7 linked regions of the Homo sapiens genome follow. The protein of the gene in region 6 purifies or fractionates together with the protein of the main gene of each other region. This does not show direct contact. Each region holds a gene or a part of one and is shown on either strand. Other genes may lie near its edges. The genes, in order: PATL1, RAVER2, SATB2, ACTR6, ADNP, QPRT and CRY1.

Region 1 (4,592 bases), on a different chromosome or scaffold from region 6:
CTGGGACTACAGGCGCCCGCCACCACGCCCGGCTAATTTTTTGTATTTTTAGTAGAGACGGGGTGTCACTCTGTTAGCCAGGATGGTCTAGATCTCCTTGACCTTGTGATCCGCCCACCTCGGCCTCCCAAAGTGCTGGGATTACAGGCGTGAGCCACCGCGCCTGGCCTGTTACTTAGTATTTGATGTTTTATAATGTTCCATGCATGCTTGAAAACCAATAAATCATCTTGTCCCGACGCTCCACTTCTTTAAAGTTCAGGCCTGGCCCATGTCAACATTTGCTTTTGTTATTCTGGCACAGTGATTAAGACACTCGGTTTTTAATAATCAGACAAATCTCAGCTGCTAGCTTTACCACTTGCCATTGGGTGGTTGGAGGCAAACAATGTCGCTAATCCTCAGGTTCCTCAACTGTAAACTGAGAAAATAACAGTACCTACCTCATGGGGGGCACATAAGGAAGGATTCAATGAGATAATCCATTTTATAAAGCGCCTAGCAGAGTCCCAGGCAGCCTTCAATCGTTAGTAGTGTTACCATCATGAGGCAGGTGTAATTATACCCATTTTACAAGAAACTAAGGCTCAGAGAGGTTTAGGTAAGTTGCCCAAAGTTTCCTAGCCAGTGGCAAAGCACAAGCTCCCACCCAGAACTTTTCTTCACAAATTCAGCGTTTCCGATACTCAAACTGATCCAGACACACTAACATTTAGGGGATTTACTGTATGCCATTCCGAGACGAGGCTGCATTTTAAGACGCCCAGGGAAGAAACGGATTGCGAAACCCAAAAGAATTCATTCTTTGTGCTGCAAGTTTTGTCTGAAAGGAAAGGGGCAAGAAGGGCATGGAGCGTGCTAGAGGTAACAAACCACCCAACAGAATTCTGGAACCAGGGGGCCGAAGCTTCTAAGCTGGACACATTCCTCTGTGGGTTCGATCCTCTAAGGAAGTGGAGTCACCCAGCGGCGCACCACGGCCCGAAGACCCTGCTGCTGCGTGGCCAGCGGCCCACGGCCGTGCGGCCCTTCGAGGCTCTGCAGCTCCTCGCGCCTAATGAGCCTGGCGCTTAAAAATACCACCCTAGTTAAACCTCCCGGAACCTGTCTTCAGCATTTCAAAAAAAAAAAAAAAAAAAACGGGCGCCGTCATCACTTTGAGCCACATAAATCACAGCCCTGACCTGCTGTGGATTCAGCAGGCGACGAGCCGCTGAAAGTGGCGACGAAGTCCGCCCCTTTCGAAGACCAGCAACTTTCCATTCTTTTTTCCCTGCGCAAGGCGCAGATTGCAACGGGGAGACCCCCGAGCAGCCTGAGGAGTGAGTCGGACGTTGGAAAAACTGCCCGGGAATCTCATCTTTCCCAGCCCAGGCTAAGCGCAGGATTCTTCAAAGCTATATCCTGTGACAATCACAAGGGTTTTCTCCGCCCCACGGGTGACGGAGAACTCGTGACCGGCCCCTGAGCTCCAAGCCGAGCGCCTAGAGGGCGCGGAGAAAGAGGGGGCGGAGCTACAAGCCCAGATCACCAGGCAGCCGAAGACGGGCAGCGCGTGCGCAGTCTCTCGCCACGGGACCTCCTTCCCGCCGCTGAGACTAGGAAGCGGGACGCCAAATCTGTCCCTGCGCAGCCGCCGCCGCCGGGCGCCGAGCGGGGTGGCCGCCCTGCCTGAGGCGCGCCTGCGCACGTCCCCACGCACGCTCCGGCGTACGGCGGCGGCCAGGGGTCGCGAGCCGGTGGAGGACCCGCGCGCGGAGGAGCCGGGGAGTCAGCGCTTCTTCCCTCCCTCCCCCTCTCCCCTCCCCGCTCCCTGCCCCCCTCCCCAAGAATGTTCCGCTACGAGGTGAGCTGTTGCGACCGGAAGTGACCCCTCCCTCCCTCCCGCGCCCCTCTCCCTCACTCTCTCTCCGCGCGCCGGTCCTGTGTTCCTGCGGGGCAGGGGGCGGGCTGGGGGAGTCGCAGGACTTAGCTGGACGCGACTGGTCTGGGGTCGCGGGTCTAATCCTAGGGCTGGGAGCTGGCTTCATGGGTCGAGACAGTCCCATTAGTTGCCGCTGGGGAAAGTTGGCCTCCGTTTTGGGGTGGGGAGGGCCCGTTAAGTGCTGTAACCAGACCACACCCCCGCCCCCACCCCTAGAGGAGCCACGGAGGGTAGAGCACTGCATCTCCCCGGGTGCTTTTCTTAAGTAGGTGTCACCCGGGAATTCCCAGAGCCGCGTTTCCCGCCCTGGACCCGGAACCACCCCCCACCCACCTCCACTCGAATTACACTGACACACATCCCATTCACACAGGCTACCTTCAGGTGAAGGGGGCCTGGGCTTGCCGTTGGATTAGGGCCCCAGCCCGTTTACTAAAGAGGGCTCCGAGTTGGGAGGGGGGCGTGTCCTGCAGAAGTTCCTTCTGGGCTAGTGCTGGGAGACGCGGGTTTGGAGAAGGTGCCGGGAATGTAGCAATAGCAGCAGACAGTACTGACCCTGTCACCAACTCACTGTGTGACCTTGAGTGACTCCTAATCTCTGGACGTAAACTTTCTGAATTTGTAGCATGAAAGAACTGATGTAAATGATCCTTAAGAATTTTTAATTTAAAAAAGCAGCGATTTGGTAAAGTAGATATTTGTGATTTGGAAGGGAGTACTGCTGGAAGTTGCCTCTGATAAGGAGGCAGTGGCATGCCTATTGGCATGAGTTTGGAAGGGCTCTGGGGTAAGAAGAACGCCCTTTGACCTAATCTTTCCATTGTAAACAGGGTAGCTAAGAGGTAGCCAGGCAAGGTGTATCACAAACGTACCTACTGATAGAATATGGAATTCTGATTCTGAATTTTTGAAAATTGAGGACAGGTATACTTGATAGGAATGATCTAAGACCAAACCAAAAGGAAAACTTGGAGAATAAATCAGTTGAGTAAGATTGAAGTAAAGGGGGAAAATAGAACACACCTAGGATGTGGTGGCCTCTAGCCTTTGTTCGATAATCTGTAATCTTTGCCCACTTTGATCATCACAACTCTCTGCCATAGTTGGTATTGTCCCTGCATTACAATGTAAGACATTGAGCCTTACAGCCTAGCACAGAACCTTAGACGCAATAGGTCCTTAAAAGGTATTTGATGAATTAATTAGAAATTTTCTGAGTTGCCCATGTTCACACTGATTGTAGGAATGGAGCCAGAACTTGAACTTGTCATACCACAGCTTTTCCAGAGTTCATTTTATTGTGGTTGAAGACCTAATTTTCTGTTTCATCACTAGAGTTTAGGCCTATAGGGAAGATAAGAAAGATGGAAAATGAAGACAAAGCTTTAAAACGGAATAATAGTTGAAAAGATGACATGAATATAATGAGAAAGATGAGAATTTTGCTGGAAAAGATACATAAAGATACAAGAAAATAAAGGGTTCATTATTAATTGTCATCAGTATTCCAACCAGTGATGTAAGGAAAGTTGTGGGCTTAATTTCTTGGTTGCATGAGGAACTGCTGTTCGTGGATTCTTGATAAAATAGAGAAATGGAATGCTGTGAGGTGGGGCAAGAATTAAATGAAATAAGGATTAGGAAATAGAAAGTGAAAGAAAGATGATGAAATCTTCCAGTGTCAGGGAAATTGGGAAGTAGAAAAAAAATGCCATCTTTACAAAAAGTCATAATGAAGCAATTATGTTCATTGAGAAGGTAAGATGAACATTTTTAGAACATTTTTAAAATGAGGGTGTGAATTTCATGAATAACTAATGTCTTTTCTTTTTTTTTAGTCTTTGGAGGATTGTCCTCTGGATGAAGATGAAGATGCATTTCAGGGACTGGGAGAAGAAGATGAAGAGATTGATCAATTCAATGATGATACATTTGGGTCAGGTGCAGTTGGTAAGTGACATCTTTCGCTTATAATATCATCTTAGCCTCCTGCTCTTTTCAAGTGCTGTCTTTTAGAAGTGCTTTATCTTATTAGGGGTAACCTTATTCACTAACTTGGCAAGATATTCTTCTATTCCTCATCTTAGAATAGTTCATTCTTCACTGGAAACAGCACCTATCCTGCTCCTCTGGGTCTCTTTTTGCCTTACCTATAAAATCAGGTATTCTGTAAGCCTTGCCCCTTCCAGCTATATGATCGATGACTACAGGTTGCCCCTATGAGGGATTCAAATGTTTAGAGAAGTAAACATTTAAGAGAGATTTAAATTAATCCTAGATGAGAGGAATTTTTATTTGTATAACATATAACTTATGGAAAACTAGTGTACTAGTAGAAAATTCAGATTCTAGGATGTGGGTATATGTGTTTCAAAATTTAGTCTATCACTAGTATATAACTTTGCAACTTATAGTATCTTCAAAATATAAAGCTTTTTATAGCAAGAATTTTGGGGGTCAAGAAAGGACTCATAAGTTAGAAAAGTATGCACAGATGAAATTTTGTCCATCCCTGGGTATAGATACATATTATTTATTTATTTATTTATTCTTTTTCGAGATGAAGTCTTGCTCTGTCACCCAGGCTGGAGTGCAGTGGCACGATCTTGGCTCACTGCAACCTCCGCCTCCTGAGTTCAAACAGTTCTCCTGCCTCAGGCTCCCGAGT
Region 2 (4,129 bases), on a different chromosome or scaffold from region 6:
ATTAGACATTGTGCTAATCATTGAGGCTACTGTGTGGAATGTAACATTTAAAGTCTATGTTATTATAGAATTTCAACCAGTAGGGAAAACACATTAAACAGTTAATTACAATAAGGAGTGGAGAGTAATATGAGAGGGGAAGTTCAGAGTATTGATAATATTCCCTGTGTTTTAAGAGAAACACCAAAATGCATTACCTTTAAGGCCCATACATTTGAGCTGGCCCCTCCTGCCTCTCAACTCACTGCAGATCGCTGTCCCACTACAACAGCCTGGTTTTGGTCCTCAAAGGACCTTGTTTTTTCCTCCTTTGGTCTTTTCTCCTGCTGGTCCTTCTTCCTGGAACGCTTCCCACCCCAACATCACCTAATTCCCTCCCAGACTTCAACTACAGCCTTCAGATTGCAGTACAATAATTAGTTCCTCCAAGAAACCTTCCTTGAATCTTCCAGGCTAAATAGCATTCCTCCACTATTTGTTCTTATAGCCCCCTGTATTTTTCCTTCATGTGATTACCATGTGTAATCCTGTGTTTTTTTTATTAATTAATGGCTCCCTTCCTTAGGGGATTGTAAGATCTATGAGGGCAGATCTTATTGTACTTCTCACTAAGTAGCACAGTGCCTAGAACATAGAAAGTGCTCAATAAACCTTTGTTGAATGATTAAATGAATAAATAAATGAATGAATAGAATGTCACTGTCATTGAAACCAAAAAGGGTTGAGAGGAGGGAACGAAGGATGAAATAATGTAGAATTATTTCATGACTGCATGGCCCCCTCTTGTGTATTATTAAAATAATTAATTAGCTTTGTCTGATAAGTTGGAGAGTGAAATATGTTTAGAAGCAGTTACTTTTACTCAGATCGACTGGAGAATTGAACTTCAAAATGAATTGGGTTATACAACATGTAGCTTTTCAAAATTAAACTGACAACGTTTTGTCATTTTCACAGAGCTCAGTTATGGGTAATACTTCTAATTTATTCCTTCAGAATCTTTCTCATATACCACTGGCACAACAACAATTAATGAAGTTTGAGAATATTCATACTAATAATGTAAGTATGGTATCATTTTTTCTTTTAAAATCAGTTCATTTCTTTTCTAGAATCAGGCTGTGGATCAGGTTGTTTATGAATTTTCACGTGTGTAGCTTTTTTTAGGTTATATCTTATGGCCATGGGTCTTACCTTTTTTTCTTCTTTTGTAGAAACCCGGCTTACTTGGAGAGCCCCCAGCTGTGGTACTTCAGACTGCACTAGGGATAGGGTCAGTGCTTCCATTGAAAAAGGAGTTGGGACATCATCATGGAGAAGCACATAAAAGTAAATGATGTGTATTTACTGAGAAGTCAGTAAACAGTCAGGTTTGAGATTTAAAGATAGTTTACCTATGTTCTAATTTTATTTACAGGGAGGTCAAATTTGAGTTTTATTTAGTCATTTAAAATTTTGAGAACCCTCTTGGCTTTTCGATTTTCAATATTGGTAAGTTACTGATGGACTTGCTTCCATGCCAAGATAAGACTTCCCCTATTGGATATGCTTTAATATTTTATGCAGGTTCACAGCAGTACAAGGTAAAGACACAGATCCATTTGAGACTGACATGCTGCCCACTGGGCTGACAGCACATATGGATCCATGTAATTATTGCTGGGATAAGAAACCATTCACTTTTATTTTTTAAAATCTAGTATTTATAAATTTAAAGTTTGATTATTTATTTGTATTATTTAAAAAAATTTAACCTCTAAATCAGTAGTCAAAACTAATGTGTGTACTATGTGCTTCTAAAAACATGGCAAACAAAATAGCTTTTTTGGCAGGAAAACAGAAGCATGGTGTTATACTAAGACTTCTTATTTGAATGTGATTTTGAAGGGCATTTTCAGCTTGAAGCTTAATTGAAATTTGCTTAGAAGTGAGCATGCTGAGTAAAAACAGAAGGGCCACCAATAATTTAAAAAAAAGTCAATTAAATATGCGTAGCTTACTTAACCTTTTGTCCAGTGATCAAATAACTTAGTTCTGACTGTTGAAATTGACTGGACAAAAGTTAAGCCAGTGAAGAAATTTTGTGATATCATGGGGTCTGTATTTCCAAAAAATTAAATTTTTTATGTCTAAAAGCTTATGCAAATATGTATTATTTGTGTTGGATTAACTAATAAATTATTTGCTTTAGTATATGCCGCTTTAAGAACACTGAAAAGTCAGTGTCCAAATAACTATATTCTAAACGTTAGGGGAACCAAAGTATCCATCTCTAAATGATTATTACTAAAAATAATTGAAGAAATTTGTTTAGTAAATTTATAAAATGGTAAATCTGACTTAGTTGTCAAAATTAGCTTTTTCCATTTAATTTTGACCTATAGATTTTTTAAAAAGTGGAACGGTTCAGAATTTTCCTATTAAAACTTTTATTTGCCAGCCTGGGCAACATGACAAAACCCTGACTTTACTAAAATGCAAAAAATTAGCCAGGCATGCTGGCACACGCCTGTGGTCCCAGCTACTCAGGAGGCTGGGGTGGGAGAATCACCTAAGCCCAGGAAGTCGAGGCTGCAGTGAGCCATGATTGTGCCACTGCACTCCAGCCTTGGCGATGGGAATGAGACCCTGACTCAAAAAACAAACAAAAAAACCCTTTTATTTCTTCCAGAATTTCTTGTTATTTTCTGTAAATAAAAACATAAAACTTTCATGTATTTAGTGCTTATCTATTAACAAATACTGATTTAAAAAAAGAAACCAGTGATATGCTGATAAGTGTTTAACAACCAGCTCTCTAGGTTGAAAAAAAGGGCTTGATTTGTAGCATTTGTGCATTTCTGTTTGTGAATACTCCAGCTGTGACTGATTTCAAGTTACCAATATGAAGACACTTAACTTGATAGCTGGGAAGAGATGTGTATTAATAGCTCTCATGAGCTGATGGAAGCCAGCTAACCAAATTTATTATTGGAGTCAATCAAACTTCATTAAATTTTAATTTCAGATAACTTTTTAAACTTAAAACTTAATTATTTCCTTCAGTTATGGAAACAGTCAAGTTGCAATGACTGGGCATAAAAAAAAGCACTAATACAGCTTAAATGCCAAAAAGTACATAAACTTTGCCCTCAACTTTAACAATATATAATTAACAATTATATATAGAATTTAAAAACTTAAAAATTCCTTATCATTGAGGTTACCCTGAAAGTTGCTGAAAATAAGAGCATTATTACTATTGTAGGTTTTTGTTTTTTTCATAAAGGAACCCACTAATTAACAACCTCTAACCTTACCTTTTGCTGTTATCTAACAGGTACAAAATTGGTTTCTCTGCATTTTGCTCATAACTTAACAAAATTAAAAGGACTATTGTGAATAAATATTTTCTAACTAAAAGCTTTTTGCATTTATGGTTTGCTACAGCATCTAGCCTGATTCCAACTCAAACAACGATAACAGCTGGAATGGGCATGTTACCATTCTTTCCAAATCAGCACATTGCTGGACAGGCTGGGCCAGGGCACAGTAATACTCAGGAGAAACAGCCAGCCACGGTGGGAATGGCAGAAGGAAATTTCTCAGGGTCGCAGCCTTATCTTCAGAGCTTTCCAAACCTTGCTGCTGGAAGCTTGCTGGTGGGACACCATAAGCAGCAGCAAAGCCAGCCAAAAGGCACAGAGATAAGTTCAGGGGTAAGAAAACTGTGGGTGCACACAGATGTATATATACATGTATATGTATATATATTCCTTTTAAATTATGTCTTAAATTGTCGTGTCAATGAAATGATGACTTTTTCATAGTTTACATTTACTTTTCAAAATTGAAGAAAACATTGCATTCTTTTAAAAAATCTGTTATAAATAAAGCAAACAAAAAATCCATTTTTTGATAAGTTATGCTAGCTGGCATTTGGGACTATCTTAATTATTTGCCAGTTTGTAAGTAAAGTAATTTTAATTTGTGTAAAATGAGTTACGTCTCTTATAAATAATTTAAATGTGGATTCTTTATTCCTTATAAGAGAATAAGGAATTTCCAAAAAGTTTGTGATATACATGGTTTTCAAAAATACTTGCTATTTTAAATATAAGATATAAACTAGTTTAAGTTCAGAATTTTG
Region 3 (4,885 bases), on a different chromosome or scaffold from region 6:
TTTATATCATTTAAGACAAGTTAATATATTGAATATTAAATGGGCTACTGTTGAAATTATTAGAGAAAAAACGTTAGAGGCAAAAAAAATTAAACTAGTGATTTATGCCAAACACACAGAAAACCTGCATGCCATGTGGAATTGTGGATTTTACATGTAAAAGACAACTAAGCAAATGGCATACAAACTCCAAAATATTTCAATGTTTAAATTTCTCCCATATCTTTATTTTGTATGATTGCTTTTCCTGACCACTTTAAAAGAAAGTAGTTGCTTAAGTAGTAAAAACTACAAAAGATTTTCTTTAAATAAAATTATTAATAAATTCTTTGGAGGGGAAACTACATCTAGTTGATAAGGCTACTTTGCTATTTTTATCTGTTCTCCTATAATTCATAATAAAGTTACGAATGCATATGACTAAACTTTATAGACAACAGCAGCATTTAAGCTTCTAAGGGCCTGATGGATTCATGGTGATTCTTTATTTCCCACATTTCACGTGGCAGGAAATATTCCCAGTTGTCATTCATCTGTCTTGAAGCACTGTCCTCACTACAAAGTAACATCAACTCTCCTTGTTCCTGTACTCGCCTGAGCATTAATGACTATTTTATTCCCTAAAAGCGAACGCACGTGAACTTCATCCCTACAACAGACACTCCGAGGCAAGGCAAAAGAGTTAAATCACTAAAAAGCTCTCTAGGAAAATCTAGAAACAGTTAGCTGGCTGTGACATAAACCTGCCAACACCTCAGCACACAGTGGCAAAATGCCCAAAAAATGCCACCCTCTGGGTAAAACCACTTTCTTGTTTTAACTGGAGATGAAGCTACCAGTTGCAGATGAGAGGCGACGGGGGCATTATTTGGCAACCTGGAATTCACTTCCTGTAATCCTACACCGCGACAGCGCCTAATCAACCTGAACCCTGACACCCGGGCCATTATCACTGGGCCGCGGGCTGCGCGCCTCCCTGCTCCGGGCTGTTACCTCCCACGGCCTTGGCCACGGCGCCGTTGGGCCTCCCGCGGGCTCCCATGGGGCTGCCGTTCTGCTCCAGCCGGGCCACCTTCACTGGGGGAGGCCCCTTGACGTCCGGGCTGCCGCTCCGCCGGTCGGGGCTGTCCCGCAGACACGGGCTCTCGCTCCGCCGCTCCATGCTGCTCCGACTCGGAGACAAAGTTCCCACCGGCAGGTCGCAATAAAACGCACAGGGACCTAGGGAGGGGGTGGGGGGAGGAAGGGGGAGGGAGAAAAAAGAGGGAAAACCGCTCATACACGTGATAGACGTTCAGGCCAGTGGCAGAGCGCTGCACCACAGCCACACAAACTTCCTCCCACGCTGCCCGAGGGGCCCGAGCCGGGAAGCCGGTCCCAACCTTACACTGGGCGGCCCCCAGGAAGCCCAGCGCCTCGGTTCGGCGACTCTGCCCAGTCGCAGCTCCCCAGAAGTCAGCCCTCGGGGTCGCGGCCGGGGTTGGCACCCAGGGGCGCCTAGAAGTGGTCCATTCATTGGGACGGGGTTGGCATAAACCGTTCCTGGGTGCTACAGCCTAGCCCGTCCCGGGGTCAGGGTTGCGGAATAAGTGAACTTCAGAAAAAGACGTTCCACCCACATGGGAAGGGAGTTGGGGGTGTGCGCAAGTCCATAACCGAATTAACCACCCGGTAAATGCGCTGTGAATGGCCAGGCAGGAGCCAAAGGCCGGGCGAAAGAACCCCTTGAATACCCGCTTTTTACCTATACGGAGCAAGTCCTGAGATAAGCACACACCTGCATAAAATCAACCCTAATTCCACATTAATAAGCATCCGAAAACACTTGGAGGTATTTATCAGAATAACCTCCATCACAAAGGCGGGCGCTACAATCGTTATTATTTTGGAGCGTTCTTATCTTCATCTGATCCCCAGTGCTTTTTTAAAGCTCTTCAATATAAAACACAAAAGCAAAAAGCATTTGAATTCTTAGTGCAAGAGCAGCCTTCATCCGCCCCAATTTTAACATCGCTCCAGAAAGTTTTCCTCTGGGTCACTAGGTTGGCAGTGCGCTCCCCACGGAAGCCGCAGGTCTCGACACCCCTGGATTGGGGGGGTGGGGGGGGGCGGGGAAGGAGGGGAAACACCTGATGAAACGGCGCTCGCGTTGTCACTGACACCCGCAAGAAGCAAGACCCCGGCACCGTACTGCGTGCGCGCTGGGAATCCTCGTGGGCGCTCTGGCCGCGCGAGCAGTGTCGGCGCCACGGGTCAAGGAGACAAGGTGGGGGTGGCAGGGGGAGGTGAAAGGAAGGATGCGAGATGAAGACACGGAGCAGGAGGGCTGAGGGCGAGGCTTCCGCCTGCATTCCCCGACTTCGCGGTCCGAGAGGCCGAGAGCGGCGGGGAGGGGACTTCGTTGGCCCTGGGCTTCCCCGAACTCCCGAGCGCGGCGCGGGAGCCCTCGCCCTGCGTACTTACTGCTCACGGTCTGTCTGAAACTTGGCTGACTGGGGCTCTGTCCATGGAGCAAAAGTAGAGAATCCAGGGTGGAAAGTTTCTGGTGCTTGGCTTTGCAGTGTTCTCCTAGTCTTCCTCTTTACTCCTTCCCCTTCCCTCTTCCCCAGGTCCTAATGTTTAAGGTCCTGGGTCAGGGTGTCTTCTTCTGGTGCGGAGATGGTTGTTATGATGATGATGGGGGGAGGGAGGAGGGGGAGGAGGAGGAGAGGGAAAGGACTCCTCCAAAGGGACACCCGAGCGAGCGGGGGAGGGGACGGCGGAGGAGGGGGGAAGAGAAGGAGGCTGAAAGAGCCTTTTCACACCTTCGGGAAGGAGACCCGTTCTGGAGAGAAAGGGCTGAGAACCCGGAGGCGGCGGCGGCGGCGGCGAGCCGGGGCTGCTGGTTCGCAGGGCGGCTAGCTCGCGAGGAGGCGCGGCCAGAGCGGTGGGACCGGTAACACCAAGAGCCGAGAAGACGCAGGGACCCGGGACCGCGCGCGGGAGGAAACGCGGCGGCCGCCCAAGCTGTCACCTCCAGCCTCTCCCCTCTCGGCCGCCTCTGCCAGCAGCCAGAGCCGGACTCACTGACAAGCCGCAGAGAGAGACACACTGAGAGGGAGATGATTATTAGTTGCGTTGAGTCATCAGGCAAAGTGAGTCCTTTTGGGTTGTCCTCGGTTTCCGATTTCTCCCCCTCCCCCTTTCGGTCCCCAGATCTAGCGCCTTCAAAATAATAATTTGGGGTGGGGGTAGGGGAAGTCTCTGGATTATTTCGGGATGGGGGTGGGGGGGATGGATCTAAACCCAAGCCAGACTGGTCCACCGCAAGAAAAGAGGGGAGTGGGGGGCGGGGAGGAGGGCTGGGGAGGTTGCGGGGGGAGGGGGGCCCCGCCTGGCAGGAAATTAAACATCAATCAATCAATCGCTGTGAGCACGGCGACCCAACGGCGGCGGGGCTGCGAAGGAGGCAGAGGGACAGGCGAGGGGCGGGTGGGAGGCAGGGAGGAGGGAAGAGGAAGGGGAGAGTCGGCGGTCGGAGCGGGGTGACGAGGACCTCATGCACGAGGCGGCGAAGGACCGATGGCAGAGAACCGAGTGCGGCGCGAGGCGGTGGCCGCGGCCAGCGGGTGGGTGCGTCTGGGCGCAGGCGGGCACCGGGGCCCAGGGTCTGGTCCTCCTCCTTGTGGCGGGTCCAGGGCGCGGCCGCCTCGCCCAGCCCCTAGGCGCACTCGTCCCGGCGCGGAGGCGGCGGCGACAAGGCAGTCGCTGGGTGCCGCGTCTGCCGGCGGAGACGCAGACCGACGCGCAAGAGGCGACCGCGGCTGCCTCGGCTCCCAGCTCTGTTAACTGCGCGGAGTACTTTCGACTTTGGAGATAGGAGGGCGATCGCCTCCCCCACCCACCGCCTCCGCCCACCACCCACCGCCTCCGCCCCTCCGAGCAACTTTTCCCGGTGCCTGCGAGCTCCCCCTCCGCGCCGAGCCGAACGTCCCGGCCCGCCGCGCTTCGTGCCGCCGCGCGCGCAGGGAAGGCCGCTTCTCCTTCAAAGCTGGCACGGCCGCGAGTCCGGAACAATAGTCGGGGTGTCCCGAATGCCAGGAGCACGGCCACTGCCCGCCGGGCTGTGGGTGGCACAGGAATGGGGGTTGCGTGGTGGATGCAGAGCGGGGTGCATCCCTGGATGGCATCGCTGGAGCGCTCGCCGCTCCGGCGACATCGCGAGCGGTGCAAACCGGGCCGCCTGGAGCCCGTGACGCGGTGGCGGCGAGGGCGGTGGGGCTGCCTGTCCTCGGGCTACAGGACTGGGGCTCCTGGGGACCCCAAGCTGCTCGAGCCCAGGGCTGCTGGCGCCAACAGAGCTGTGCCCTGAGGACCCGGCCTCCCCGCCCGGGGGGAGGCCGCACAGGAGCGTCCCCAGCAGGTCCCGCGAAGGCGTAACAGAGCCACAAACTTTTGCCGACTCCCGCGGCCGCGGCCGCCGGCAGCCCGACTCCGGCCGCGGTGCTCATTTAAGGTGGCGCGGGCACTAGCCGAGCAGGCTGGCCTCTGGCCGCGCTTTTGTCCCTGCGATTCCGCTTGGGCGCGCTGCCTCCTTAAGGAAAAGCACGTGGGCAGGGGCCGCAGCCCCCGCGAGATACCCGGGGCGTCGGCGGACATTAGCCGCTAGGACCTTAGGCGAGAAAATGTGGACGCATCCCCGCCGGCCCTGAGGCCAGAGAATCCCCCCTCAACTGGTTGCACCTCATGTCCCTCCCGCACACGTTGACTCTCCCTCCTAATCCCCAGGACCCCGAGGGCTCTCCCACATCTCCCGCAGCAAGAGCCACCGATCCCCCTTAAGAAGCGTTGACTGTACGGCGGCGCCAGAGGGCCAAACTAAGTTCGGTTTCGGGAAACGCTCTCG
Region 4 (4,129 bases), on a different chromosome or scaffold from region 6:
AAGACAGCCTGGGAAACATAGCGAGACCCCCGTCTCTTAAAAAACAAAACAAAAATTAAAATACAAAGAAAAAAAGGAGGAGAGACAAGAGAGAACTTCATAATATACCTATAATGGTACAATGATTCTAGTTTCTAGGGAACAAAGAACACATTCTAAATAAAAAACATTTACTATGTCTTGTGTTTCTAGTACTGTCTACTTTCACTCCCCTAATTTAGGTGTTTACTGGATATGTGGCTCTATTCTATTAGGATTCCCCCTTTCCCTTCTGGAAAGAGCCTACATCTCTACATTTCTTTAATATGTATTCAATCTCTATTCAAAATTAGTTTCCAAATGATGTAAGCAAGTCCATGGTCCTTATCCTTGAACTTACCTTATAATGCTAACTTTATATGAGGCCTATGTATAACAAACTTTAAACAACCATGACTCATATTTTCTTGTTATTTATTTTCTGCTAACCCACCCAATCTGTGAGCTGTAGTGCTGAGGGGGCTGCAAAAATAATCTCCTTCCACAATATTCTAAATCATTAAAATAATGGTCCCTCTCAATTTTACAACCATCAGCTTTCCTAGATTCAGGTAAAGACATTCATTTCATTTGACTTATAAATGCAGTTGTCCTCCCATAAAAGGATAGGTCCCTTAATATAATCAGCCATCTACTCTCTATTCAGATTTCAGCTTCCTGAGAGGTTTTCTCTGCTTCCCAAATAAAAAGATCCTTCACTATTCTCTATCACCCTATATTATCCTTCATAGCTTATATTGTTCACCATCACATATCCACTAACTATCATAAAAAAGTACCTGGCACACAGTAGATACTCCATGAATTCTTGAATAATAGTAAGCAAGACAGCAACATGTCATTCATTAAACATATTACATACATTATCCCACTGAACTCTCATATAACCCTGTAACACGGGCATATTTTCCTTTTAAATTAATGATGCAATTGGGCTCTGCAAGGCTACATTACTTGTTCAAGGTCATTCATATCATAATCCAAAGCACATACAAAATATTCCTTCCATGATACTACCACTCATAACCTGGATATAAATGGTTAGATTTTGATCATTTGGGAATTCCATGCTCAAAACATTATTCTAAAATAAAAAATATCCTGAAAATTATACAGTATTCACAAATACTCCAGGAAGAACAGAAAACTATAAATCACTTTTAACCCAGAAAACTATAAATCACTTTTAACCCAAAATATTGTTATATAGTAACAAAGAGAAGAATATTATGCCTCATAGAAGTATTCTTCCTTCTCAAGCAGAATGGAAAATATTTTCTATGAATTTACAAATTCATTAAATTCCAGCCATTCACTGACTTGAGTTTAAGGGATATAACTCATTTTATCAACATTCAAAATAACCTGAGATAGTTGCAGACTTAGGAATTTCAGTTGACAAAACATTAGAGGTTATCTAGTTTATAGCCCTGATTGACAGAAGAGGATCATGTGACTTATTCTAGATTAAATGACTAACTAGGGGAGAGAGCCAGAACTAGACATCCTTGTTAAATGTTAGCACTAAAGCCATTAACCATTAACAAGTAATCTGGAGGCTGGGCACACTGGCTCACGCCTATAACCCAGCACTTTGGAGGCCAAAGCGGGAGGATCACTTGGGCCCAGGAGTTGAGGCTAGCCTGGGCAACATAGATGAGCGTGGTACCTCGTCTCTACAAATAACTTTTTAAAAACTTAGTCAGGCTTGGTGGTGACCATCTGTGGTCCCAGCTACTTGGGAGGCTAAGGTGGGAGGATCACTTGAGCCTGAGAGGTCAAAGCTGCAGTGAGCTGTGATCACACCGCTGTGCTCCAGCCTGGGCTATAGAACGAGACTCCGTCTCAAACCAAACAAAAAGTTAGTTCCAGTACAATTAAAGAAATGATCAGTGTATGTTATACTGGCTCTGCAGAAAGTGGTAATCCATGATGAGGACGATTTTCTCAATTTAGGTCAGTCGAATTCATTATACATTAGTAGGCTTCCTCTTTCTGATAAGAAAGAAAACTGGAATTTCTATTGGTTGTTATCTGTAATGATATTACAGGCCTATTTTTATTGCTATTGTTACTACCATTAGTGCTAGAAAATCAAGTATGTAACTTCCCCCAGCTACTTAAAAATATTCTTGAAACTATCAAAATTCAAGTGTTAACAAAACCCTAGGAATAAAGGCTCTCAAATAAATATTTATTTTAATCAAGTATTAAAATCAAAACAATATAAAAAATTCCAATATATAAAATACAACTGTTTCTAAATCTTTAAAAAATTATTAAGATGATTTAACACAGACTCTGAATAAGGTGTACATTTTAACGAAATTGACAAAGATTAAACCATTCTTTCTACAATAAACATTTGCGGTAACACTGTATCATCTGCCAAAAGCCCAGTTCCAACTGACTTTGTCCACTCATCTGCTATTAAAATACACATTATATATGAGAATCAGCAACAGAGTGTATCCTGAGTAAATGAAGCCCACACAGTCCATAACCAGATTGTGTTCACAAGGTCAAAAGCCAATAAAAAACCTTATATGGCTTCTGCCTTTTCTAAAGATGAGTAAAGTAATGGTCAACTGGGAGAATAACCACACCTCTACTGGCTTATTGCATAAGGTACTCACTTGAGAAAACACGGCTTATGATTTGGCAAGGAAGAAACTGGCAGAGTTTAGAAGAAAATGTCCAATAAACAAATAGGTTGTAATTTGCAGGGAAGGAGAGTTTTTCTAAAAAGAAAGATTTCCTAGTTGACTATCCAATCATCTGGAAGAGGTTTTAAGTTTTCAAACTTATGAAACAGGCAATTCTAGGAAGAGGAACTGAGAACACGGATACAGGTTTTGTTTTGTTTTCAAGTGCCCCAAGAGATTCCAATGATCAGTCAGATTTGAGGAGACTGGAAATCACTGAGACTTTACTCAGATCCATCTCTGTAGAAATCAGGATTACTTTACCCCTATTAACCCTATAGAGTACCATAAAATTTCCACAAGGTATCAGCTATAAAATATGACAATAATCAAATGTGCCTAGTAAGAAAGAGGTTTGGTATTTAAATGTTTGGGGCAGTTTTTCTTGTCTTGTGAAGAAGAAAAAAAATACACCTTCCGTATCTTAGCCAGGACTTGGGCTTCCAGTTTCTCTCTACCTGATACATGCCCAGGCAACCTTATCCCATCATCTATCTCAATTCCCATTTCTGAAAGCCAGCCTAGGTCCTTTCATAAGGATCTGTTTCACTTTTTGTTTTTTGTTTCTTTTGTTTTTAAAGAGACAGGATCTGGCTCTGTTGCCCAGCTCTGGAGTGCAGTGAAATGATCATAGTTCACTGTAACCTCAAATTCATGGGCACAAGCAATCCTCCCAACTCGGCCTCCTGAGTAGCTAGAACTACAGGTGTGTGACACCATGCCCAGCTAATTTTAATTTTTTTTTTTTTTTTTGTAGAGACAGGGTCTCACTTTGTTGCTGAGGCTGGTCTCAAACAATCCTCCCACTTCAGCCTCCCAAAATGCTGGGATTATAGGTAGGTGTGTGCCACCACACACAGCCATAAGGATCTGTTTCTAAGAACATAAAAGGATGATTTCAGTTTTATAAGGCCCCAAGTAGTCTCTGAACTCTGATTCATACTTCACCTCAATAATCTGGCCCAAAAAAATTCACTTTTGTTTTCAGGCATACTAAGTATAAATAATTATATAAAACCCATGTATTCACCAACCAGCTTAATGTAACTTTACAGATAAGCTGACACTCCCCTAATTTGGTATTTTATCATTCACATACATAGTTTTTTATACTTTTACTTCATATTTAAGTATACCTTAATAACATATTATTATTCTCACCAAAAAGAGAACATAATTATTCTGCATAGACTAAAAGTGTACATAGCTTTCTAAAATGTGCTTTTCTGTGAAAATCAGATTTCTGAGATTTGTCCATGCTGTTTATATAAGCTCTACTTGATTTCTCTACTGCTTATTATTTTACTATACGAACATATCAAAAATTAATCTCCTTCCATTAGTGGATATTTAGGCAGGTCTCAATTTTTCATTATTTTAAAGTA
Region 5 (4,129 bases), on a different chromosome or scaffold from region 6:
GGGTAAATAGCGATTACAGTAGAGGCATTTGCTAGTAAAATTGTGTATTTTCATAATGTAGTTGGCTACTGCTGGGACTTTCTCAGCTTTATGTTCTTTTTCGAAGTGCACACTATAGACATTTTCAGGAAAAAGCTCATTACAGATTGTACATATTTTCCACTTTTGAGTTGAGGAAGTGTTACCTGGGGGAGGGCCTGTGGCAGCTGCAGCAGGTTTGGAACTGGACTGACCTAACACTCTGGATGCCTGTGACTGAGAGAGGGAAGGAGACTTTAACTGGCCCGATGAGAGAGAAGAGGCATTAGCAGACTGCAGGGAGTATCTTGCTGGTGCCTGGGACCTCTGCTCTGACCCAAGCCCATAAGACCTTCCGTTTCCACTTGGAAGTAACTGCTTTACAGACTGAGATTGTTGAGGAATGGAAACTGGTGCGTTGCCACCTAGACCCAGTCTCATTGACTGACCAACACTGTAACCCTGGCCTACAGATTTGACTCCATAGTTGTTCTGCTGCAGATGAACACTGGACATCATGTTGACTCCTGTAGAATTTAAGTTAGGCTTTGGTATTGAGAGTCGATTCACCATCTGCTGTGATGGTAAAGACCGGACATTTCCAGAAGCAAGGGAACCGATCCTTGGTGGGAGTCCCATGCTCTTCTTGTCTTGAGGTTTGGGAGCAATTAGCATCAAGGGTTTGGATCGGGGAACCACTACATTTGTGTGCCCAATCATGGCAGTGACCTGATAGCCTATACGTTCATGGTCTTCGATGACATGCTGTACCAAAGCTTCATAGGACTTTGGCATGAAAAGGCATCGCTTGCAGTGAATACTACTCTCTTCTCGGGCATTCGAGCCTAAGGGGACTGCCCCATTGAGTGATTTTTCTCCTGCCTTTGCTATGTAAGGTGCTGCCACATGCTGAAAATGTTCCCTGTAAATGTGCTTCCTAACTATTTCATAAAGAGGATCTCGGTAAGTGCACTTCTTACAGTAATAAACAGCTTGCTCTACACTGTCAGCCTGCTTAGGTTTAAGGCCATCATTTTTGTTTTTATCTTTGAAAGTGCTGAGGCTGCTACTTGGTGCGCTGGCGTTCGGAGCATGAAATATTTTAATGTGTGTTTCCAAAGTCTTTTTGTCTGCATTGAAGGTACAGTAGGGGCAATTAAGGAGAATCCTATTTTCAAAGTCTTCACTATGGACATTGCGGAAATGACTTTTGTAGGCAGAGAAGAATTTTGAGGAAAATGGACAAGCGCTGCAGCAGAAAGGTTTTGTCCGATAGTCCTAAAGTAAACACAAAAACTAGAATTAGAATGCCACTTCAGATAGGCAGTTAACAGATTCCAGATCCCCCCCGGATATTCTTAATAATGCATTGATTTTAGGCCGCGCGTGGTGGCTCACGCCTGTAATCCCAGCACTTTGGGAGGCTGAGGTGGGTGGATCACCCAAGGTCAGGAGTTCAAGAGCAGCCTGGCCAACATGGTGAAACCCCATCTCAACTAAAAATACAAAAAAATAAGCTGAGCGTGGTGGTGGGCGCCTGTAATCCCAGCTACTTCAGGAGGGTGAGGCAGGAGAATCGCCTGAAGCTGGGAGGTGGAGGTTGCAACGAGCCGAGATCGGCCATTGCACTCCAGCCTGGGCGACAAGAGCGAAACTGTCTCAAAAAAAAGCACTGATTTTAGTATGTTTTCCCCTTTTGTATAGTAACTTTATAAAATAGAAACTCAAAAAAAAAGCTATCTTAAACCAAATATTTTTGTCAGTGTAAATTAAAAAAATGCTAAGTTCTTTCTCAATGTTTAGGGAAAAAAAGTCACATTTTAGCTAAACCAAAGACAAATGACTTGAAGATAAACATTTTGCAGCTAGAAATAACAAGAATAACCTAAATGAAGGAAGTTACTAAAGACTTCAGGTTTACTATACAGTCATGTGTTGCTAAACCACAGGGATGCATTCTGAAAAATGTATCATGGTGTGAAATCCTCAAGTGTGTATTCACACAGACCTAGATGGTAGAACCTACTACACGCCTAGGCTACATGGCATAGCTTATTGCTCTTAGGCTACAAACCTGTACAGCATGTTTCTGTACTGATTACCATAGGCAATGATTAACACAATGGTAAATATTTGTATGTTTAAACATAGCTGAGCACAGAAAAGGTACAGTAAAAATACAATGTAAAAGATAAATGATACCATGAACAAAGCTTACAGGACTAGAAGTTACTCTGGGTGAGTCAATATGAAAGCCTGGGACATTACTGTACACTACTGTAGACTTTATGAACACTTAGGCTACACAAGTTTTACTAAAAAAAAAATTTTGAGACAAAGTCTCACTTTGTTGCTCAGGCTGGAGTGCAGTGGCACAATCGGCTCACTGCAGCCTCAACCTCTTGGGCTCATGCGATCCTCCCACCTCCGCCTCAGTCCTGGGGACTACAGGTGTGTGCCACCACACTAGGGTAAATTTTGTAGAGACAGGGTCTCCCTCTGTTGCCCAGGCTGGCCTTGAACTCCTGGGCTCGAGCAATCCTCCCGCTTTGGCTTCCCAAAGTGCTGGGATTGCAAGCCGCTGTGCCGAGCCCTAAAAAATATTTTTTCTTCAATAATAACCTCAGCTTGCTGTGGTTTATACACTTTTAAATTTTTAACTTTTTGACTCTTTTGTAGTAATACTTAGCTTAAAACACAAACAGATTGGCCAGGCACAGTGGCTCACACCTGTAATCTCAGCACTTTGGGAGGCCCAGGCGGGTGGATCACCTGAGGTCAAGAGCTTGAGACCAGCCTGACCAACATGGTGAAACCCTACCTTTACTGAAAATAAAAAAAATAGCTGCACATGGTGGCAGGCACCTGTAATCCCAGCTACTCGGGAGGCTGAGGCAGGAGAATCACTTGAATCCAGGAGGCAGAGGTTGCAGTGAGCCAAGATCACAGCACAGCACTCTAGCCTGGGCAACACAGCGAGACTCCGTCTCAGAAACAAACAAAAACCCCCAAAACAAACACATTGTACAGCCGTACAAAAATATTTTCTATCTTCATATGCCTATTCTATAAGCTTAAAAAAATTTGTTTTAAAAAAAAACTTTCCCAGCACTTTGGGAGGCCAAGGCAGGTGGATCACAAGGACAGGAGTTCGACACCAGCCTGGCCAACATGGTGAAACCTCATCTCTACTAAAAATACAAAAAATTAACCGGACGTGGTGGCAGGCGCCTCTAATTCCAGCTACTCAGGAGACTGAGGTTGCAGTGAGCTGAGATCGTGCCATTGCACTCCAGCCTGGGCGACAAGAGCAAGACCCCGTCTCAAAAAAAAACCAAAAACTTTAAAAACATTTTTTTTCTTAAAAGCTAAGACACAAACGCATACGTTAGTCTAGGCCTACAGAGAGTCAGAATCAACAGTATCACTATCTTCCACCTTTACATCTTGTCCCACTGGAGGGTCTTCAGGAACAGTAACACACATGGAACTGCCATCTCCCATGGTAACAATGCCTTCTTCTGGATAACTGCAGAAGGACCTGCCTTAGGCTTTTCTTGAGGAGGTCTCACACTTACCAAGAATAAGCCCACGGTGCTTTGTTTCCTTTTTTCATCATAGATTTGATTGTAAGCAGATAATGAACCATGAATATTCTTCTCTATTAATAAAAACCTTTTGGTATTGAGATCCATGTTTTCAAACTTTTTTGTTGTTGTTTGAGATGCAGTTTTTTTGCTCTTGTCACCCAAGCTGGAGTGCAATGGCACAATCTCGGCTCACTGCAACCTGCACTTCCCGGGTTCAAGCGATTCTCCTGCCTCAGCCTCGTGGCTGGGATTACAGGCGCCCCACCACCACGCCCGGCTAATTTTTTTGTATTTTTAGTAGAGACGGGGTTTCACCATGTCGGCCAGGCTGGTCTTGAACTCCTGACCTCAGATGATCCACCAGCCTCGGCCTCCCAAAATGCTGGGATTACAGGCGTGAGCCACCAAGCCCGGCCACGTGTTTTCAGACTTAAGGAGCTTGCTGAGGTCTGCACTGCTAAATCCTTCACTGAATTTTCTTGAGGGTTCTTCTTTTGCTTTTCCTGCAGTTTCCTTTTCTC
Region 6 (4,129 bases):
CAGGCCTGATTTCGGGTCTGGTTCCTTGGTTTCCGGTCTGGTTCCTAGGCACCAGGCTACCTGCCTTTAGTTTCGCTTCTCTTTCCTTTTCTGAGTATGAAACAATATGAGAGGGTCTCTCTCTTCCCTCAAGAGGATCAGGAAAAATAACTAATGGGTACTAAACTTAATACCTGGGTGACTAAATAATGTGTACAACCCCCATGACACAAGTTTACCTATATAATAAACCTGCACATGTACCCCTGAACTTAAGATAAAAGTTAAGGCCGGGCATGGTGGCTCATGCCCGTAATCCCAGCACTTTGGGAGGCCAAGGTGGGTTGATCACCTGAGGTCAGGAGTTCAAGACCAGCCTGTCCAACATGGCAAAACCTCATCTCTACTAAAAACACAAAAATTAACCAGCTGTGGTGGCAGGCGCCTGTAATCCCAGCTACTTGGGAGGCTGAGGCAGGAGAATCTCTTGAACCCAGGAGGCAGAGGTTGCAATGAGCTGAGATTGCGCCATTGCAATCCATCCTGGGTGACAGAGTGCAATTCGGTCTCAAAAAAAAAGTTAAATTTAAAAACAAACAAAAGGCTGGGCGCGGTGGCTCACGCCTGTAATCCCAGCACTTTGGGAGGCTGAGGCAGGCGAATCACCTGAGATCAGGAGTTTGAGACCAGCCTGACCAATATTATGAAACCCCGTCTCTCCTAAAAATACAAAAATTAGCCGGGCATGGTGGTGTGCGCCTGTAGTCCCAGCTACTCGGGAGGCTGAGGCAGGAGAATCGCTTGAACCCAGGAGGCAGAGGTTGCAGTGAGTCAATATCGCGCCATTGCACTCCAGCCTGGCCAACAAGAGCGAAACTCAGTCTCAAAAAAAAAAAAAAAGAGAATAAAAACAAACAAAAAATTAGCCTGAGGTCAGGAGTTCAAGACCAGCCTGTCCAACATGGCAAAACCCTGTCCCTACTAAAAACACAAAACTTAGCTGGGTGTGGTGGCATGTGCCTGTAATCCCAGCTCCTCGGGAGGCTGAGGCACGAGAATTGCTTGAACCTAGGAGGCAGAGTTTGCAGTGAGCCGAGATAGCACCACTGTACTCCAGCCTGGGCGACAGAGTGAGACTCTGTCTTAAATAAATTAATAAACAAACAAATAAATAAAGTAACTTTGATGGGCTCACTCAGAGGTTCTGTCTATAGCCAAACCTCACTCAGGTTCCCTCAGCTCTTTTCCAGTTAGGCCTTGGACTTCCGTGTTCACCTCTGCATCGTCCAATTTTAGCAAGAATACTGCTAAGTCAGCTTAGCCAGTCCCTCATCCTCCACATCTGATTGCCCCCGATCCCTGATGGGGGTCCTCATTCTCCACTCTCCCCCAGGCGCTGTCTGACCACCTTGGCCTGCCCTCAGCAAGAATCCCTTTAGGTTGGTCTTGTCAGAATACCCCCAACCCCCAGTGCTTTCTCATGGTAATGTCCCATCCACTGCCCCCAACTCTGCTCGTTGGCTATAACCCCCATGGTGTAGAGTTCAGCCCAGTTCTGATCTAAGGTCACTCTTCCCCTACAGCAATAGTCTGGAATGCAATATGTTTTTGCTATTTTAACGACTGTCTAGTTCTGGTTTTCTTTGATCACTCTCCTGCTGAAAACTGACCTTTCATGGTTTCAGCTCCAGTTCTCTTGACTTTTTTCTTTCTTTCTTTTTGAGACAGAGTGGAATGCAGTGGTGCAATCATGGCTCACTGCAGCCTTGAACTCCCGGGCTCATGTGGTCCTCTCACCTCAGCCTCCTGAGTAGCTGCTCCACCATGCCAAGGTAATTTTTTTTTTTTTTAATAGAGACAGGGTCTCAAACTCCTGGCTTTTAAACATTTTTTTCTTTTTCTTTTTTCTGAGACAGTCTCACTTTGTTGCCCAGGCTGGAGTGCAGTGGCATGCAATGGAAAAGGGATGGACCCCCGAGCTTTGGCAATAAAAGTAGACTCACTGCAGCCTCTGCCTCCTGAGTTCTCCTGCCTCAGCCTCCTGAGTAGCTGGGATTACAGGCATGTGCCACCATGCCTGGCCAATTTTTGTATTTTAGTACATTTCTGTATTTTATAACAGCACGAGGAGGTCATTATTGTCATCCCTGTCACAGATTAGGAACCCAAGGCCCCTGAGGGTTGTCTCCAGTCCACAATCACTTAGTGACAAGTGGCAGAGCCAGGGCTGGACCTCAGGTGTGCGGCCCCAGAGCCTGGGCTCTGATTCACTGTGCTACGCAACCTCTCTGATGGGATAAGTATCCTAGCTCACATACTATGAAGCTAACCAATATAAAATTGCCAATATTTGGCCGTTTTGACCAATAAAAGCAGCACATTTATATGGTTCAGTATACGAAGCACTTGGATATAGCAGAAAACTCAATGGCCAGACACAGTCTTTGCCCATCGAGAGGAAACAGCCGTAGACTGTGATGATGGGGGAAGAACAGGAAGCACAGAGGGACCAGGATCTAACCTCCGGGCGTGTCTGTGAGGCCCCTGCTGAGGAAGTGATGTTTAAGGGAAGACCTGCAAGAGGAACAAGAGCTGAAGGGGGAGATTGGGGATGAGGATAAGGGAAGGGGCTTCCAGGCCAAGGCACAGTCCTGCAACAGCATAGGCTAAAGCCTGACAAGTAAGAGAAAGAGCTGCCCACGCTGTTGCCTCCATGCCTAGCAATTATTAACACCCCACACAGTGCAGGTGCTCAATGAGGATGTGTCAGAGAATCAGTGAAAAATGGAAAGAAGTTGCCAGGTGTGGAGGCTCATGTCTGTTAATCCCAGCACTCTGGGAAGCCAGGGTGGGAGGAAGACAAGGCCAGGAGTTGGAGGCTGGGCACAGTGGCTCACGCCTATAATCCCAGAACTTTGGGAGGCCGAGGCAAGTGGACCACTTGAAGTCAGGAGTTCAAGACCAGCCTGGCCAAGATGGTGAAACCCCGTCTCTACTAAAAATACAAAAAATAAAAAAAATTAAAAAAATAAAAAGCCGAGCGCCTGTAATCCCAGCTACTCGGGAGGCTGAGGCAGAGAATTGCTTGAACTTGGGAGGCGGAGGTTGCAGTGAGCCAAGATTGTGCCACCGCACTCCAGCCTGGGCGACAGAGCAAGACTGCGTCTCAAAAACAAAAAACAAAAGACTTTATGTTTGAAAGCCCTTAGGAACACTGTCTAGCACAGGGTAGGCGTGCTCGCGAAGAAAAGAAGCGTTTCTCAAGTGTGGTGGACTCATGGAATAAATGACTAGGTGTCTCTGAGGACCGGTGAGTGATGTTTGCCAGGCAGAGGTGTGGGGTGGGGCTGACATTTGGGGCTGAGAAAACTGATCTGTTCACCTGCAGACAGTGTCGGGGTGGGGGCAGTGTGGGATTCACAGGTGACATGGTGGGAGGAGAGGCCACAGGGAGAAAGAACTAAACTATTTAGCTGAGGAATTTGGCCAGATCGCAGAAGCCATCATAAAATTTCATTTTATTGGCCGGACACAGTGGCTCACACCTGTAATTCCAGCACTTTGGGAGGCCGAGGTGGGCCGATCACCTGAGGTCAGGAGTTCGAGTCCAGCCTGACCAACATGGTGAAACCCCGTCTCTACTAAAAATACAAAATTAGCCGGGCATGGTGGCACATGCCTGTAATCCCAACTACTCAGGAGGCTGAGGCAGGAGAATCGGTTGAACCCGGGAGGTGGAGGTTGCCGTGAGCTGAGATCCCACCATTGTATTCCAGCCTAGGCAACAAGAGCGAAACTCCATCTCAAAAAAAATTTTCTTTTCATTTTATTTTATTATTTTTAAGTAGAGACGGGGGGTCTCGCTATGTTGCCCAGGCTGGTCTTGAACTCCTGGGCTCAAGCAGTCCTCCCACCTCGGCCTCCCAAAGTGCTGGGATTACAAGTGTGATCCACCATGCCTGACCCATCACAGAATTTTAAAAGAGGGAGTGATATGATTATGGTTTTGCTCCAGAAGGGTCACTTCAGCCACCAACTGGAGACAGATTGGGAGGCAAAAGAAGGCTGAGGTAGTCTTGGCCAGACAAAAAGTAGGCTGGGCGCGGTGGCTGTCACCTGTAATCCCAGTGCTATGGGAGGCCAAGGCAGG
Region 7 (4,129 bases), on a different chromosome or scaffold from region 6:
TAACCAGGTATTGACATTGATACAAAGTGTTTGTATGATTTTATGCTCTTTTATCACATGTATAGATTTCTTTTTTCTTTTTTTTCCCTTCAATTTTTATTTTAAGTTCTGGGGTACATGTGCAGGATGTGCAGGTTTGTTACATAGGCAAACATGTGCCATGGGGGTTTGCTGCACAGATCAACCCATCACCTAGGTATTAAGACCAGCATGCATTAGCTATTCTTCCTAATGCTCTCCCTGCCCCTGCCCCCCCAACAGACCCCAGCATGTGTGTTTTGTTGTTTTTTGTTTTTGAGATGGAGTTTTGCTCTTGTTATCCAGGCTGGAGTGCAATGGCGCGATCTCAGCTCACCACAACCTCTGCCTCCTGGGTTCAAGTGATTCTCCTGCCTCAGCCTCCCAAGTAGCTGGGATTACAGGCATGCGCTACCACGCCCGGCCAATTTTGTCTTTTTAGTAGAGACGGGGGTTTCTCCATGTTGGTCAGGGGCTGGTCTCAAACTCCCAACCTCAGGTGATCCACCCACCTCGGCCTCCCAAAGTGCTGGGATTACAAGTGTGAGCTACTGCACCTGGCCCCAGTATGTGTTGTTCTCCGCATGTATCCATGTGTTCTCATCATTCTACTTCCACTTACAAGCAAGAACATGAGGTGTTTGGTTTTCTGTTCCTGCCTTAGTTTGCTGAGGATAATGGCTACAAGCTCCATCATGTCCCTGCAAAGAACATGATCTCGTTCCTTTTTATGGCTGCATAGTATTTCATGGTACATATGTACCACATTTTCTTTATCTAGTCTATCATCGACTGGCATTTAGGTTGATTCCACGTCTTTGCTAATGTGAATAGTGCTGCAATGAACATACGTGTGCATGTATCTTTATAACAGAATGATTTATATTCCTTTGGGTATATACCCAGTAATGGGATTGCTCAGTCAAATGGTATTCCTGCTTCTAGATCTTTGAGGAATCACCACACTCTCTTCCACAATGGTTGAACTAATTTACAATCCCATCAACAATGTAAAAGCCTTCCTTTTTCTCTGCATCCTCACCAGCATCTGTTGTTTCTTGACTTTTTAATAATCACCATTCTCACTGATGCTGTCCTATTTTTTAATCAAATTACTGAGCTTCATGCTATTTTTGGTCAAAGCCAAAAACTAATATGATGGTTCAAATTTCTAACACATACTGAGTTCCTGAAATTATTAATATCACACATAAGAATTTACATGGTCACTAAATTTGTATCATACAGAAAACTACTACAGACCAGACTTTATAAGAAAAACTTATGTGCAAAAAGACTAGAGGGCTCTATGCATGTGTACAATAAATCTTTTGGCCATGTTCACAGGGCCACTGACTTTCTTAACTAATTACCTTATAGTTGCCATACACCTAAGGAGTAAAAAATAATAAGCATTCTGAAAATATGACATTTGAGTTTCATTTTATCCTTAAAATTGCTCTCCTCAGTTTGCAAGAGCTTTAACTTGACCCAGTATCTATTATACGTAATGATATTTTCCATCTCTAAAATGTCATCAATGGAGTGAAGAGATGTGTCTGGGTGCACATGTATGCATGCATACAAAGAATCTATTAAGCTAATTTCAAAGACAGATTTTTATAAAATATGTTAGTGAGGATCAATAACAAATATATTTGTTTAATAACCTCTTCATGTTACTAAGTGCAGAAATTTCCTTTTCACTTACTTCCACTGCTGCTACAACCTGGGATATTTTCTGCAGAATATCCCATGAAGCCTCCATTCCCATTAGGATTAGAAGGTACTGATGCCAGAAGACCTAAAGGACAAAAAAATTTTCTTTTAAATTATGATCAAGATAAAATTCAAAGATAAGTACATAAACAGCTGCCAAAGAAACAAAGACAGTTCTTAACATACCTAGTCCTCTATATCGTGAAAGCTGCTGATAGATCTGTTTCATCCTTTCGATATTCAAACGGCTTGCCTCAGCATGGTTCACCATTGGTTTAGGATAATTAACTCCTATCAAACATTTGGCTACCTTTTGGATACCTTCTGGTGCATTCCAGGGATCATAGATATATTTTGCAGGGAAGCCTCTTAGGACAGGCAAATAACGCCTTTGGGAGAAAAAAGAAAGATTACTAATAAAATGCACTCTAAGCAAACTATAACTACTAGCTATGACAGACCAAAATCAAATCAAGACCATTTAAATGATCTGTTTACCCTTCTCATCTCTGCTGCCCATCATGAGTGGGGAATACTTTAAGCATTGATTAAACATGAAAAGCTCTTCTTGAATTAACTATTCCAAACTGAGTAGTAATCACCCTTGATTTACCTGATATAGTCTCCATTGGGATCTGTTCTCCTACCAAAACCAACAGGGCAATAGCAGTGAAAAAACTGTTGAAAAAAGGAACTACAAGACAGCCACATCCAACTTCCAGCATTTATGCTCCAATCTGCATCAAGCAATAATTCTTCAAATACCTTCAGAAGTAACAGTAACCAATTAGTTTGCACACACATAATTCGCAAAGCAAGCATTTTCAAGGTCACAGTAGAGCCAAAGTCAAGGCAAAGAAAATCTAGCACAGAATTGTAAAATTAAACATTCCAAAGTTAGCTTCCCTATGTTCTGTTCTATAATGAGCTCTTCCAGAGAAAGAAACATAGTGGTAATATAGTATGCTTCTGAAGAGAATTTACTTTTCCAACCTCTGCAGTGTTACTGGGAGAATGGAAGGTAAAAAAAATATTCAAATCACTGATTTAAAAGGATGTGGATTTAAAAGGATATTATTAGTAGACACAGGAAAAGCAGTCAACCACTTTCAAGAAAGCAAAAATGCTATTACATAAAACACCAACAAAAACTTAGCTTCATATTCTAGCCTAAATAAAGGAAGCATACTCAAATATAAATTCACTTAAAAATATATACTAGCATTACATAGTTTAATTTCGAATTCCTTGATCAGAAAGAAAATAGAATTAAAATAAATGATTTTTATATATATTCATTAAGTATGTTATATATTGTCTTTGTATACAACGGTGTACTAGGAAATATAAGAGATTAAACACACACACACACACACACACACACACACACAAGCTCAGAAATGGTCCTTGGATGGGGCAAATGTATGGTATTGCCAGAAAGGTAAAAAATGTACGTAATGGCCGGGCACGGTGGCTCATGCGTGTAATCCCAGCACTTTGGGAGGCTGAGGCAGGGGGATCATTTGAGGTCAGGAGTTCAAGACCAGCCTGGGCAATATGGTAAAACCCTCTCTCTACTAAAAATGCAAAATTAGCTGGGCACAGTGGTGGGCACCTGTAATCCCAGCTACTCGGGAGGTTGAGGCAGGAGAATCACTTGAACCTGGAAGGCGTAGGTTGCAGTGAGCTGAGATCACGTCATTGCACCCCGGCCTGGGCTACAGAGTGAGAGACTCCGTCTCAAAAAAAAAAAAAAAAAAAAAGTACCTAAGTCTTATTACGTGTAATCCACAAGATGTCGTCACAAAATGTAGTATGCTTCTCTTTACATAATAGAAGTATTACTAAAAAGCTGAGAAGTGAGGTGAAATGATTTATATTTTAAAATTTATAATATGAATTCACTATCTCTAGGAACTCTTTAGTGAATTCTTTTCGTGATAGAAATATCACCTATAAATATATCTATCAACAAATTCAGTGTTAAATTTTACAGTTCTCTTAGTGGCTAGGCTGGTTTAACCATTAAAATGACTTTAGGTTAATCAATTTAACCAGTTTTCACCTTTTTGCTTGTCTGATTATACCATTTTTCTCTGAAAGTGTCCCCGTATTTGGGGAATTAAATGTTTTATCCACTGAAAAACTACACCATAAATGAATCTATAAACAGACAACTTCTAGGATTTGTTTTATTAAGGTAAGGATTCCTTCAAAATAAGGCATGCTATATCAGTTAGAACACTTACCTTCATTCCTTCTTCCCAACTAATCCACAGGTCCCCTCGTGTCAGGAAGCAAGCAACTGCATGCCTGGCTAGATGATGAATCCAACCCTCCTGACGAAGCTGTGTCATGATGGCATCAATCCATGGAAAGCCTGTCCGGCCTT

The links.
Region 1: the proteins of QPRT (region 6) and PATL1 purify together in Homo sapiens (affinity purification with mass spectrometry; 4 studies listed by BioGRID and IntAct, with this or other methods). This does not show direct contact.
Region 2: the proteins of QPRT (region 6) and RAVER2 purify together in Homo sapiens (affinity purification with mass spectrometry; 3 studies listed by BioGRID and IntAct, with this or other methods). This does not show direct contact.
Region 3: the proteins of QPRT (region 6) and SATB2 purify together in Homo sapiens (affinity purification with mass spectrometry; 3 studies listed by BioGRID and IntAct, with this or other methods). This does not show direct contact.
Region 4: the proteins of QPRT (region 6) and ACTR6 purify together in Homo sapiens (affinity purification with mass spectrometry; 3 studies listed by BioGRID and IntAct, with this or other methods). This does not show direct contact.
Region 5: the proteins of QPRT (region 6) and ADNP purify together in Homo sapiens (affinity purification with mass spectrometry; 3 studies listed by BioGRID and IntAct, with this or other methods). This does not show direct contact.
Region 7: the proteins of QPRT (region 6) and CRY1 purify together in Homo sapiens (affinity purification with mass spectrometry; 3 studies listed by BioGRID and IntAct, with this or other methods). This does not show direct contact.

Annotation. Positions count from the first base shown.
Region 1 is NC_000011.10:59,666,135-59,670,726, reverse strand, and holds the start of PATL1 (protein PAT1 homolog 1), read left to right. Parts: upstream 1-1,689; 5' UTR 1,690-1,831; coding exon 1,832-1,846; intron 1,847-3,762; coding exon 3,763-3,874; intron 3,875-4,592. UniProt on the Homo sapiens protein: RNA-binding protein involved in deadenylation-dependent decapping of mRNAs, leading to the degradation of mRNAs. Acts as a scaffold protein that connects deadenylation and decapping machinery.
Region 2 is NC_000001.11:64,803,777-64,807,905, forward strand, and holds part of RAVER2 (ribonucleoprotein PTB-binding 2), read left to right. Parts: intron 1-957; coding exon 958-1,062; intron 1,063-1,214; coding exon 1,215-1,329; intron 1,330-3,429; coding exon 3,430-3,698; intron 3,699-4,129. UniProt on the Homo sapiens protein: May bind single-stranded nucleic acids.
Region 3 is NC_000002.12:199,454,876-199,459,760, forward strand, and holds the start of SATB2 (DNA-binding protein SATB2), read right to left. Parts: upstream 3,065-4,885; 5' UTR 2,464-3,064; intron 1,222-2,463; 5' UTR 1,163-1,221; coding exon 994-1,162; intron 1-993. UniProt on the Homo sapiens protein: Binds to DNA, at nuclear matrix- or scaffold-associated regions. Thought to recognize the sugar-phosphate structure of double-stranded DNA.
Region 4 is NC_000012.12:100,213,931-100,218,059, reverse strand, and holds part of ACTR6 (actin-related protein 6), read right to left. Parts: intron 1-4,129. UniProt on the Homo sapiens protein: Required for formation and/or maintenance of proper nucleolar structure and function. Plays a dual role in the regulation of ribosomal DNA (rDNA) transcription.
Region 5 is NC_000020.11:50,893,217-50,897,345, forward strand, and holds part of ADNP (activity-dependent neuroprotector homeobox protein), read right to left. Parts: intron 1,297-4,129; coding exon 1-1,296.
Region 6 is NC_000016.10:29,685,533-29,689,661, reverse strand, and holds part of QPRT (nicotinate-nucleotide pyrophosphorylase [carboxylating]), read right to left. Parts: intron 1-4,129. UniProt on the Homo sapiens protein: Involved in the catabolism of quinolinic acid (QA).
Region 7 is NC_000012.12:106,995,565-106,999,693, forward strand, and holds part of CRY1 (cryptochrome-1), read right to left. Parts: coding exon 3,987-4,129; intron 2,503-3,986; coding exon 2,351-2,502; intron 2,127-2,350; coding exon 1,924-2,126; intron 1,823-1,923; coding exon 1,730-1,822; intron 1-1,729.